3 linked regions of the Homo sapiens genome follow. Changing the gene in region 1 together with any one later gene gives a genetic interaction. Each region holds a gene or a part of one and is shown on either strand. Other genes may lie near its edges.

The links.
Region 2: changes in CDK12 (region 1) and KSR1 together harm fitness more than expected from each alone (negative genetic interaction), as found in Homo sapiens cells (one large-scale study listed by BioGRID).
Region 3: changes in CDK12 (region 1) and LIAS together harm fitness less than expected from each alone (positive genetic interaction), as found in Homo sapiens cells (one large-scale study listed by BioGRID).

What each region holds. Positions count from the first base shown.
Region 1 is NC_000017.11:39,513,365-39,517,014, reverse strand, and holds part of CDK12 (cyclin-dependent kinase 12), read right to left. Parts: intron 1,285-3,650; coding exon 1,207-1,284; intron 1-1,206. UniProt on the Homo sapiens protein: Cyclin-dependent kinase that phosphorylates the C-terminal domain (CTD) of the large subunit of RNA polymerase II (POLR2A), thereby acting as a key regulator of transcription elongation.
Region 2 is NC_000017.11:27,602,833-27,606,482, reverse strand, and holds part of KSR1 (kinase suppressor of Ras 1), read right to left. Parts: intron 2,650-3,650; coding exon 2,595-2,649; intron 1,804-2,594; coding exon 1,755-1,803; intron 1,050-1,754; coding exon 670-1,049; intron 1-669.
Region 3 is NC_000004.12:39,475,919-39,480,019, reverse strand, and holds the end of LIAS (lipoyl synthase, mitochondrial isoform 1 precursor), read right to left. Parts: intron 2,958-4,101; coding exon 2,905-2,957; 3' UTR 514-2,904; downstream 1-513. UniProt on the Homo sapiens protein: Catalyzes the radical-mediated insertion of two sulfur atoms into the C-6 and C-8 positions of the octanoyl moiety bound to the lipoyl domains of lipoate-dependent enzymes, thereby converting the octanoylated domains into lipoylated derivatives.

The sequences.
Region 1 (3,650 bases):
AATAACAACAACAAAAATATCACCTTTATCACCTTTAAAAAATGTCTACATTGGCCGGGCACGGTGGCTCACGCCTGTAATCCCAGCACTTTGGGAGGCCGAGGTGGGCGGATCATGAGGTCAGGAGATCGAGACCATCCTGGCTAACATGGTGAAACCCCGTCTCTACTAAAAATACAAAAAAATGAGCCGCGTGTGGTGGTGGGCACCTGTAGTCCCAGCTACTCGGGAGGCTGAGGCAGGAGAATGGCTTGAACCTGGGAGGTGGAGCTTGCAGTGAGCCAAGATCACGCCACTGCACTCCAGCCTGGGTGACAGAGCAAGATTCCATCTCAAAAAAAAAAAAAAAAAAAAGTCTGCATTAGGCTGGTGTGGTGGCTCACGTGTGTAATCCCAGCACTTTGGGAGGTCAAGGTGGGAGGACTGTTTGAGCCCAGGAGTTCCAGCCCAGGCAACAAACATAATGAGACCCTATCTCTACAAAACAAATGAACGAAAAATAGCTGGGACTACAGGTGTAGTCCAAGCTACTCAGGAGGGTAAGGTGGGAGGATCACTTGAGTGCAGGAGTTTGAGGCTGCAGTGAACTATGATCACACCACTGCACTCCAGTCTAGGTGACAGAGCGAGACCCTGTCTAAAAAAAAAAATACAAAAAACATTAGCCTGCTATATTCTTCCCTTTAATTTTATTGAAAAAAACAAAACAAAAACAAACCCACCCAAATGCCAGCCCAATCCTGGGCTTTCCCCATATTTTCTATTATAGGTTGTATTTTATAACTATTTACATGCTATATACCTTACTAAACTCTGAATTCTTTGAAGGCGGGGACCTATTTTTTATCTCTGAATCCTAAAGTTTAATGTTAAAAGTAATCTGTTGTATAACAGGCTCAATAAATGTTTGCTGAATAAATTTAATCTCATCTGAGCTATGAATGGAAGAGCCATCCCCAAAATGGTATGCTTTTATATGAAGAGCTAATAAAAAATATGCAAAGTAAGATCTAAAAATTAGGTGAAATAAAACTTCTTTATATGTATAGCCTATGACAAAATATATGGTAAACCTGACTGAGTAAAGAGAAACTTACTTGGACATAAGAAACATAAACTCATTCAGAATGACTAGAAAGTGTTAGAAACTGGAGGATGAGAATACCTATCACACCTGGGCACTCAAGAGCACATGTACAGCTGTACCTGATCAGTTCTAGCTGAGCCAGTTCCAGATTGGCTTGAAAAATAGGCTTCTTTGTGAATAGTTCCCCAAGAATACATCTAGAAAAGGTAAAATTGAGAGGTCAGAAGAGAAATTCTTAGAGCCTATTTAAAGTGTCTCAAAAAATTTTTACATTATTGATATGTCGGATTGCAACCAAGATAAATAGCCCCAAATTTCAGTGTCTGAGTTTCCAAAGAGAAAATATTTCTTGCAGTGAAACAGACAGTATAAAGAATTTAAATTTGCCAGCAGATCAAACTTTTGCCACCTATTAAGGACACTCTATGATCAGAGAAAGGGAGTCAAGAGTCTTTTTCTATCATGCCATTGTAATTAAGGAAATAACTAAAGACAATTTTACAAGGTTGCTCAAAATTAAAGAACAATACTAACAAAAAATAAATAAACAAGGATGCTCTCTGCAGTTAGTTTCTATAAAGTTTGAATTCATTTTTGTCATTAATCTGCTCTGTAGAAGATGCACTATACTATAGCCTTCTTGGCACTGTATTTCAAATAAAATAATTTACTGTCATCAGCTAGGATCAGTTGGACTTTTTTTATTTTTATTTTTTGAGATAGAGTCTCACTCTGTCACCCAGGCTGGAGTGCAGTGGTGCTATCTCCACTCACTGCAACCTTTGCCTCCCAGGTTCAAGTGATTCTCTGCCTCAGCCTTCCAAGTAGCTGGGACTACAGGCATGCACCACCACACCCGGCTAATTTTTTTGTATTTTTAATAGAATCTAGTGAATCTAACATGAATAAATCTCAAATCATTTATGCTGATTAAAAGAGTGGGGGGAGTATATACTATATAATTCCATTTGTGTAAAATTCTAGAAATAGAAATTATAGTGACAGAATGCAGAACAGTGGTTTGCCTGGGAATGGGAGGGTACGGGTAGAGGAAAGGGATTACAAAAGGGCACAAGGAAACTGTGGTGGGTGATCATTATCTTGGCTGTGTTGATGGTTTTACTGGTGGATATGTTATGTCAAAACATATCAAAATATATGCAGTTTATTTTATACTTCAATAAAATAGGTTTAAATATTGAATGAATTTGATAAGGCTATACTAAAGTTTTCTGTACTATTCCTGTAACTTTTCCATACATTGAAATTATTTCAAAATAAAATAAAGGCTGAGCATGGCAGCTCATGTCTGTGATCCCAGCACTTTGGGAGGCCTAGGCAGGAGGATCACTTGAAGCCAGGAGTTCAAGACCAGCCTGGCAACATAGGAAGACCACATCTCAAAGATTACATGAATATCCCATACTTTTTGTTACGTGCCTGAAATTTTTCATTTTTTTAAAGTGGGGAAAGAAAAAAAAAGGTCGATGAATCTGTCTGACCTATGCTTTGAAATGAGACAAATACAAAACCAAATTTATACTTTTATTTTAAAATTCTTTAGTTTGACTTAATTTGAGAAAGCAAAACGAACCTAGCTTTTTAAGTAGCACTTTTCTGTTAGAATTTGGACCTTTAAACGAATTATGTTAAAACAACTTCAAAGACAAATTCTTACTTCCTATATTCTCTCAAACCCTATTCAGAGATGGAAAAGTGAAAATAAAATTTAGGCCAGGCTCAGTGGCTGATGCCTGTAATCCTGGCACTTGGTGAGGCCGAGGTGGGAAGATTGCTTGAGCCCAGGAGTTTGAGACCAGGCTGGGCAACGTAGTGAGATCCCAACTCTATAAAAAGAAAAAAAAAGTAAAATTTAATTCTGTTTTCAACATTAACTGCCACATCAAGTTCTAAGTGCAATGTTGTCGTCACAGCGGGTAAAATCAGAGACATTTAAAAAAGAAAAGAAGAAAAAAAAACCACTAGGTTTTCAGACTCCTGACATAATTTGCTGTACTAGTCTTTCTAGTTTCTCCTCGATTCTAATTTGCACACTGAACTGTCATACCAATTCTCTATAAAAAATCCCATAAAAATATCTTCAGAGAGACTACCATGAATCACCAAAGTAGTAAGTTCACATCAAAACTCAAACAAAATCTTAATTCAATGAGCCACTGGGCTTTGAAGAATGTCTAACTTTATGTAGTTTTAATTTCCAATTGTGTTTTTCTGTTTTCTTTTCTTTTGGTTTCCAGTCCTTTGGTGGGAAGACATCTTCATTATGTAATCAACACTTTGCTACTGCTCTGAGGTGGCAGGCTGCACAGACTGAAATAATAGTACCGAACAGAGCTATGAACTTTCCTCGTGCATCTTAATGGGGCGTTAACTTTAGAGCCTAGTTGTGACAATTTAAATGCTAATACTGTTAAAGCAAATTGTCCAGAACAAAAACACACCCAGCTTGAGTCAGTAAAATTTAACTAAAGCTTTATTTTATTTGGGTAGGCTACCACAGAAATTATGCTCTTTCTCCATCATTCTGTTGAATTTTAAAATA
Region 2 (3,650 bases), about 12 Mb from region 1:
TGAGCCAGCATGATCTCTCCTTTGTATTTTTACAAAAAGGAATAAACAGTTTAAAAACGTGAGTATATGCAAATGTCTTCCTTTTAACAGAAGGAATGTTAACTGTTTATAGTGTCTCTGACTTTGGGGAGAAGCGCTCAGTTGCAGTGGGAGAAGACTGGCTTTCACTCTGTACCTTTTATGGACATTTGATCTTCTGTAAACTTAGAAAGGTCTCACTCTGTCACCCAGGCTGGAGTGCAGTGGCATGATCTTGGCTCGCTGCAGCCTTGACCTCCTGGGCTCAAGCGATCCTCCTGCCTCAGCCTCCCAAGTAGCTGAGACCACAGGCACAGGCACCTGCCACCAGGCCCAGCTAATTTTTTTGTAGAGACAGCGTCTCAGTATGTTGCCCAGGCTGGTCTCAAGCTCCTGGGCTCAAGCAATCCTTCCACCTTGGCCTCCCAAAGTGTTGGGATTACAGACATGGGCCACTGCACCAGCCCATATTTATTTATTTTTTAGTGTCAATGCGGTTATGTGATTAGGAAGTTATACCCCATTTTTGGTTTTCTTCTTTATGCCTCTATTAGAACTTCCACACCCTCTAGGGCATCCACACAAACAGGGCTCCCTGGGAAGGGGGAGGCTGAGCTGGCCATCCAGCATGAGGTCCTAGGGCTTGGTTACCTGGTGATAATGGCCAGGTGGGGCGGGTTCATGCAGGCCCCCATGAAGAGCACCACGTTCTCATGCCGCGTCTGCCGGTAGTTCATCACCTCTTTCTTGAAGAGCTTCAGGTGGTCCTGGTTGTGGCCGTCCATCTCCAGCAGGCGAATGGCCACCTCGCCATGCCAGCGGCCGCGGTGCACCCGGCCCCAGCGGCCCTGCCCGATGGGCTCGCCCAGCTCTACCTGCTCGAAGGGGATGTCCCACTCCTGCAGGTACACGCTGGTCTGGCTGGCCTTGCGAGAGATGGGGCCCCGCCAGGGCCGGCGAGAGCTCGGCAAGTCGTCCACCTCGTCCTCATCGTCTTCTGCCTCTGACTTGCCAGCCTCTGGCTCCTCAGCCTGAAAGGAGAGCAGGAAGAACAGGGATGGGCAGCAGATCTGGGCTCTGCGACGTCTCTTCCTTCTCCTGGAGCCCTAGCCAGGTAACAGGGGAGAGAGGCATCCTGCCAGGGGACCCAGGTTGTAGTTGCAGCTCTGCACTGGCCTGCTGTGCAGCTCACTTAGCATCAGTGGACCTCAATGTCCTCATCCACAATATGTGGCGGCTGGCCCCGGTGACCTGAGGCCCTTCATCATGCTAATACTCCAATACCTACCTGTGAGCAACATCTAATTGTCCAGGAAAGAGCAAGAGCATCCCTGGCATAGAAGAATTTCACTGCATCCATCCTTCTGGAACTCTTGTTTAAACACAGAGTTTCTGACTCTCCCCTGGGCAGGAGTAAATCAGTCTGTTAACATTCTCCAAGCCATAATGCAATGGAGGGATCCAGCCTTGGCTGACACTTTTGTTCAAGGGTCAAGGCAGTGGTTCTTGACCCTGGCTACAATCACCTGGGGAGTGTGGGGAAGACAGAGCTTGGACAAGCTTGCTCCATTGCATTCCTCATCGTTCTTCCCTGACATGCACCTCTGCAATGGGTGCCTGGGACAGCCCTTGCCAAAGTCCAGAACCCACTCACCCTCAAGCCCCCTGCGCATTCTGAGATGGGGAAGGGAAAAAAGAGGGGGGGCCATCTGTGGACACGTGTGTGTCACCCTCACCTCCGCTTCGTGAGCTTCCAACACATCTGCTTTCGGCTGGTCATCGAGCCTAAGAGTAAACAAGGTTTGTCAAGGAGACCTTGAGGAACACCGCTCTGCTCTCAGCTAGCGGGGACTCCCGGGAGAGATCTGAGACAAAGGTACTTACTCTGACTCACACCTGGCTAGGGGAAAGGCCGCGTGGATAGCATGGCAATAGGCAGGAGGCTGAGGGCCAGACCTGCCCCTTGTGCAGCCTCAGCCTTCCCTAGGCTAACTTGAGGGTGGTGGGGGCTGAGAGGTGGGCAGTGATCCCCAAAGCCCCTTTTCAGATGTGACACTGCTACACAGGGTCTCAGAGCACACCCACAGGACTCGGAATCTGACGGCCTCAACTTGGAAAACCAGCTCTATCGCTTCCTAGCTGTGTGACCTTATGTAATTTCTTAACCTCTCTGGGCTGGCTGTATGTTAAGAATGACACCTACTTTGATACCTACCACCGCGCTGAGGGTGAGATGCGGGAATGTGAGTCAAGTGCTCAGCATGGCCTGGTAGAGAAAGGGCTCTGCACAGGAGCTATTCTTAGGCTTCTCTAACTCCAAATGCCCTCTATCCAACCCGCCTGGGTCCCAAGACTGCTCCAGTTTCACATGCGGCCCCACCCAATGTTGACCGCACTGATAGGAGGCAAATAAAACCCTCTGTGGAGTTCACTTGCCCAGAGGGTGAATGAGCCCAGGGAGTTCTGCATCTGGCTGGCTGGAGATGGAAAGGTGGAGTGGGAGGTGGCCAGGGATATGGATCCAGCCTTAATAATTCCCCAAAGAAGCGAAGGGGACACCACCTAGGGATGCCTACCGGGTACCGTCGGCAGCTTCAGGGAGCGGGGCTGCGTGTGCAAAGGCTGAAATGTCTGGAGGAAACAAAAACCAAACACAAAGCATGAGATTGCTTTCCTCTCCCCAAAGAGACACCGTGCTTGAAACCCAGCACCCCCAGAGAGGCTGATTTTCCCCTGAGTGGACTGCCACATGTTCCCCAGACACTCCCACAAGGACCAGCCTGGGCCCTTCCATAAATTTTGCAAGGACGCAGCCTCCACAGCACCTGCTTCTGCATACACAGCTGTGTCTCAGGAAGGGGCTCTGGGCAGGGGCTCTGGGCAGGGGATCTGGGCAGGTGGGGAGGGTGAGACTTCTCATTACCACCACGCCCCTGTGGCCAAACTGCCCCCCACCAAGCAAGTGGTAAAAGCAAACTGGGCTCTCATTTACTGGACAGGCTGGCTAAAGCTGCTGTTTGGAAGCAGGGGCTGCTTGCAACAACCCTTGAAACTAATGAGATTCCCTCACTTTGGCCAGCAAGGCCGGTGGCAGGACATGCAGGTGGCTCATTAGCGACACCTGGTGGCTGATACAGTTGCTGGGAATTTCCAGCACAGAGGCCCCGAGCCCTCGGCTTCAGGTATGGGTCACTGGTGGAGCAGCTCTCAGGGGAGAGGAAGAAACGCCACATATCAGGGGCCCAAGAGTGGGCAGCTGGGGCTGATCCCTGAGCCTGGGGTGTTCCCAGTTTTGGCGCTAAAAGTCCCACGTCCAGGAAGACCAGAACCAAAGGTTACTCCAGCATGGAACCAAAGTGCTACAGGGAGATTGGTGGCCCCAGGGCCGCCATGGACGGCTCACTCCCCGCTCTTTTCTGCAAAAAGAGAGACAGGAAGTGGCAGTGGCTGAAGCTATCAAAGGCCTCTCTCCTGCCTGTGTGGACAAAGACTCTCCCCGCTCAGCCAAAAGACCTCCCTCGACCTTCTTCTAGGGCTTTCTTCTGCCTTTGAAGGTCATCTGAACCACAGGCTGTCAACATCTCTGGGACCTCACAGACTTGGAGAATCTGATAGAGGCCGTGGGCCTTCTT
Region 3 (4,101 bases), on another chromosome or scaffold:
CCTGCCATTGGCCTACACTGTGCAAAGGGCCTAACTATTAGATAATATCTAGAAATGTCACAAAATTAGCCTGAAAAGTAATCCATTTTTTTCCTGTAAAATAAGTTAAGGTAGCTTGAGATGTTTCTATTTTAAGTTGGTAGGGTTAGGCCCGGTGGTGGCTCACAAATCCCAACATTTTGGGAGGCCAAGGCGGTCAGATCGTTTGAGGCCTAGAGTTTGAGACCAGCCTGGCCAACACGGCAAAACCCCATCTCTACTAAAAATACAAAAATTAGCTGGGCGTGATGGTGTGCGCCTGTAATCCCAGCTACTTGGGAGGCTGACGCAGGAGGATCACTTGAACCCAGGAGGCAGAGGTTGCAGTGAGTTGAGATCGCGCCACTGCACTCTAGCCTGACAGAGTGAGACTGTCTCAAAACAAAAGAAAGTTGGTAGGGTTAAATTTGCATCCCAAAATTTACTAGCATCTATAAAGACATACATTACTTTTTTTTTTTTTTTTTTTTGAGGAGTTTCACTCGTTGTCCAGGCTGGAGTGCAATGGTGTGATCTCAGCTCACTGCAACCTCTGCCTCCCAGGTTCAAGGATTCTCCTGTCTCAGCCTCCTGAGTAGCTGGGATTACAGACATGCGCCACCACACTTGGCTAATTTTTTAATTTTTAGTAGAGACAGTGTTTCACCATGTTGTTCAGGCTGGTCTCAAACTCCTGACCTCAGGTGATCCACCTGCCTCGGCCTCCCAAAACGTTGGAATTACAGGCATTAAGCCACCATGCCCGGCCCATGCATTACTTAAAAAAATTTTTTTTGAGACACGGTCTCTGTCACCCAGGCTGGAGTACAGTGATGTGATCTCAGCTCACTGCAACCTCTGCCTGTCAGGTTCAAGTGATTCTCCTGCCTCAGCCTCCCAAATAGCTGAGATTACAAGCATGTGCCACCACACCCAGCTAATTTTTTGTATTTTTGGTAGAGATGGGGGTCTGACTGTGTTGCCCAGGCTAGTCTCAAACTCCTGAGCTCAACTGATTCACCCGCCTCAGCCTCCCAAGGTGGTGGGATTACAGGCGTGAGCCACCACACCTGGCAAGGATGTGCATTACTTTTATAATACTGGCTCGTTATAAGAATTCAAAACAGAATTGGCTATCCACTTTACATATTTTACAACATGGCCACCTAAAAGTGTCCTTTTAGATATGCAGAAAAAGTAGAAAGGCAGGATTCAGTCAAAAGATGAATCTGAGTTATTAGTATTTTGGAAGGAAATTCCTTTCTCAGGCCTTTACCATCATATAATACAACCAATGTGAGAAATGAAAGGAATAGGGCATGTGGATTTAGCAAGCTACTATACAAATAAGGGTTAATATTTCTAGGTTCTATTTCCATGTCTTAGGCAGCATTATGGCCTTGGTGTTTTCAGAGGGACTAAATGTAATCAGCATAAAACTATTTTGCAGGTTCTGAAGTAGTCACACCAATGTAAAAAATCAACATTTACTTTTTTTTTGAGACAGTCTCACTCTGTTGCCCGGGCTGGAGTGCAGTGGCACGATATCGCCTCACTGCAATCTCTGCTTCACAGGCTCAAGTAATTCTCGTGCCTCAGCCTCCCAAGTAGCTGGGATTACAGGCACCTGCCAACACACCTAGCTAATTTTTTTATTTTTAGTAGCAATGGAGTTTCACCAGGTTGGCCAGGCTGTTCTCAAACTCCCGACCTCAGGTGATCTGCCCACCTCGGCCTCTCAGAGTGCTGGAATTACAGGCATGAGCCACCACATCTGGCCAACATTCACTCTTAAGCCTTTCTAAATTATTCCAATATTACAAGGACAAATGCTAATCTGATGAGTTTCAATCTACGTTGAATGAATGCTAAAGTTGAATGAAATGCTAAACTGATGAGTTTCAATCTATGTTGACTGTTTCATCACAGTAACATAAATGAAGTTTTTATTTTTCATAAATGAAATGTAATGATGTTAACAGTGGATTGGAAAATCTTCTGGAAGTTTTTGGGTTTTTTTTTCAAGACAGAGTCTGGAGAGCAGTTGTAGCGCCCAGGCTGGAGAGCAGTGGCACCACCTCAGCTCATTGCAACCTCTGCTTTCCAGGTTCAAGTGATCCTCTCACCTCAGCCTGAGTAGCTGGGACTACGGGTGCGTGCCACCACGTCTGGCTAATTTTTTGTAGAGATAAGGTCTCATCATGTTGCCCAGGCTGGTCTCGAACTCCTGGGTTCAAGTGATCCACCCGCCCTGGCCTCCCAAAATGTTGGGATTATAGGTGTGAGCCACCATGCCATGTTTTTAATGCATTTTAAAATTATGTTAAAAGAAAATTCTTACAAAGATATTTTAAGATTACATCACAGCAAGCAACTGTTTAATTGGGACAAAGAAGATACACTAAAAGCCAAATGAATTACTGTAATTAAATTTGTACAGTTTATTGACTTTTTTTTCCTTTTTATTTATTTGAGATGGAGTTTTGCTCTTGTCACCCAGGCTGGAGGGCAATGGAGCGATCTTGGCTCACTGCAACCTCCCCCTCCCAGGTTCAAGTGATTCTCCTGCCTTAGCCTCCCGAGTAGCTGGGATTACAGGCACCCACTACCACGCCTGACTAATTTTTGTGTTTTTAGTGGAGACAGGATTTCACCATGTTGGCCAGGCTGGTCTCGAACTCCTGACCTCAGGTGATCCACCCGCCTTGGCCTCCTAAAGTGCTGGGATTACAGGCGTGAGCCACTATGCCTGGCTATTGACATTTTTTTTTTTAAGCAAAGAGGTGGGGCACATCCACTGCAGTCCAGGCATTCTGGCACCACCTCTGTTATTAACTGGAATCAAATTTTAAAAATTTCTGTGATCTTGAAGGTCTTGTTGAAGTTTTAGAGGTCTTTTGTTTTTCTTTTAGCCACTAGATTTTTCAGGAAAAATTCACCTATTTAGGAAAAAGGAAAACACATTAATATCAATTTAAAGTAAATAACAGTGAGACAACTATTTCAGAATTATATTTTTGGTGTTCCCCCTTTAAAGAAGACTTTTGTATTTATTGGCACTTCTCTCTTCTCAAACCTCAATGGCAATATTTTTCTAACCTAAATATCCCCTATTATCTTTGGCCTTTCTCCCCAGCAATAATGACTAGAGTCTCCTACTATTATTCTTTCTAGTAAGCCAATATTACAAAGGGTGACCCTACTGTATATATGGGTCTGCACATTAATTCTACTTTATGTGCACTATCTATCCCTCATCACTGTCAAAGTATTGCTCTTGGCAAAATTCATTTCCAAGAGCAATTTTGCTACATTATTAGGCTGGATCTGATGTTTATAAAACAGATCTCGTTGCAGCTGAGCAGACGCATCTGATGGAATCTCTTTAGCTTATTCCCCTCTAGGGAAGCAAGAGCTCTTCATTTGTAATGGGCTTTCTCCCCACCGCCTGAGTTGTGCCTACGCAATAAGTTAGCAGCTTAGAGGGCACATTCTCTTTTTAGGCCATTAGTGTTCCATTTAGTCTATTGCTCTTACAGCATGACTCAATGCTTATTGGTAGAGTGCAGCACTAGAGGCCTGATTTTATGAGGAGTCTGATTAACTTCTCTTTGTCATCTTACATATGAGTAGAACTGTGATGAGTCTATCTACATATAATCTCTGCAAATCCCAAGGCTCATAACCCAGCCAAGTAATCCATGCTGCTCCATACCTCCTCCAAATGTCGTGGGAGTAGCACCAACTTTATCAGACCCTAATCCATCATTTTAGTCTAATGCTCATCATATACCAGAATCTGATCTTTTCCTGGTAATTTAGAAAGCATCAGAAAGTTCATAATTTACTTCCTTTTATGTTAGAAATTTTTCTTTAGCAAAAGAAAAACTCCTTTCAAAGGACATTACTCTAACCATTCTAGAAGCTGATAGTGGTTCTATCCTTCACATGTATTTTTAGCTTGCCAGCAGTGCTGCTTGAAGACTAAATCACTTACAATTACTGGTTTTCAAAGTCCCCACATTCTGTCACTCAGTGCTGAATCAAATTCTTGGGTTTTCAAACTATGATGAGCTACTAGTT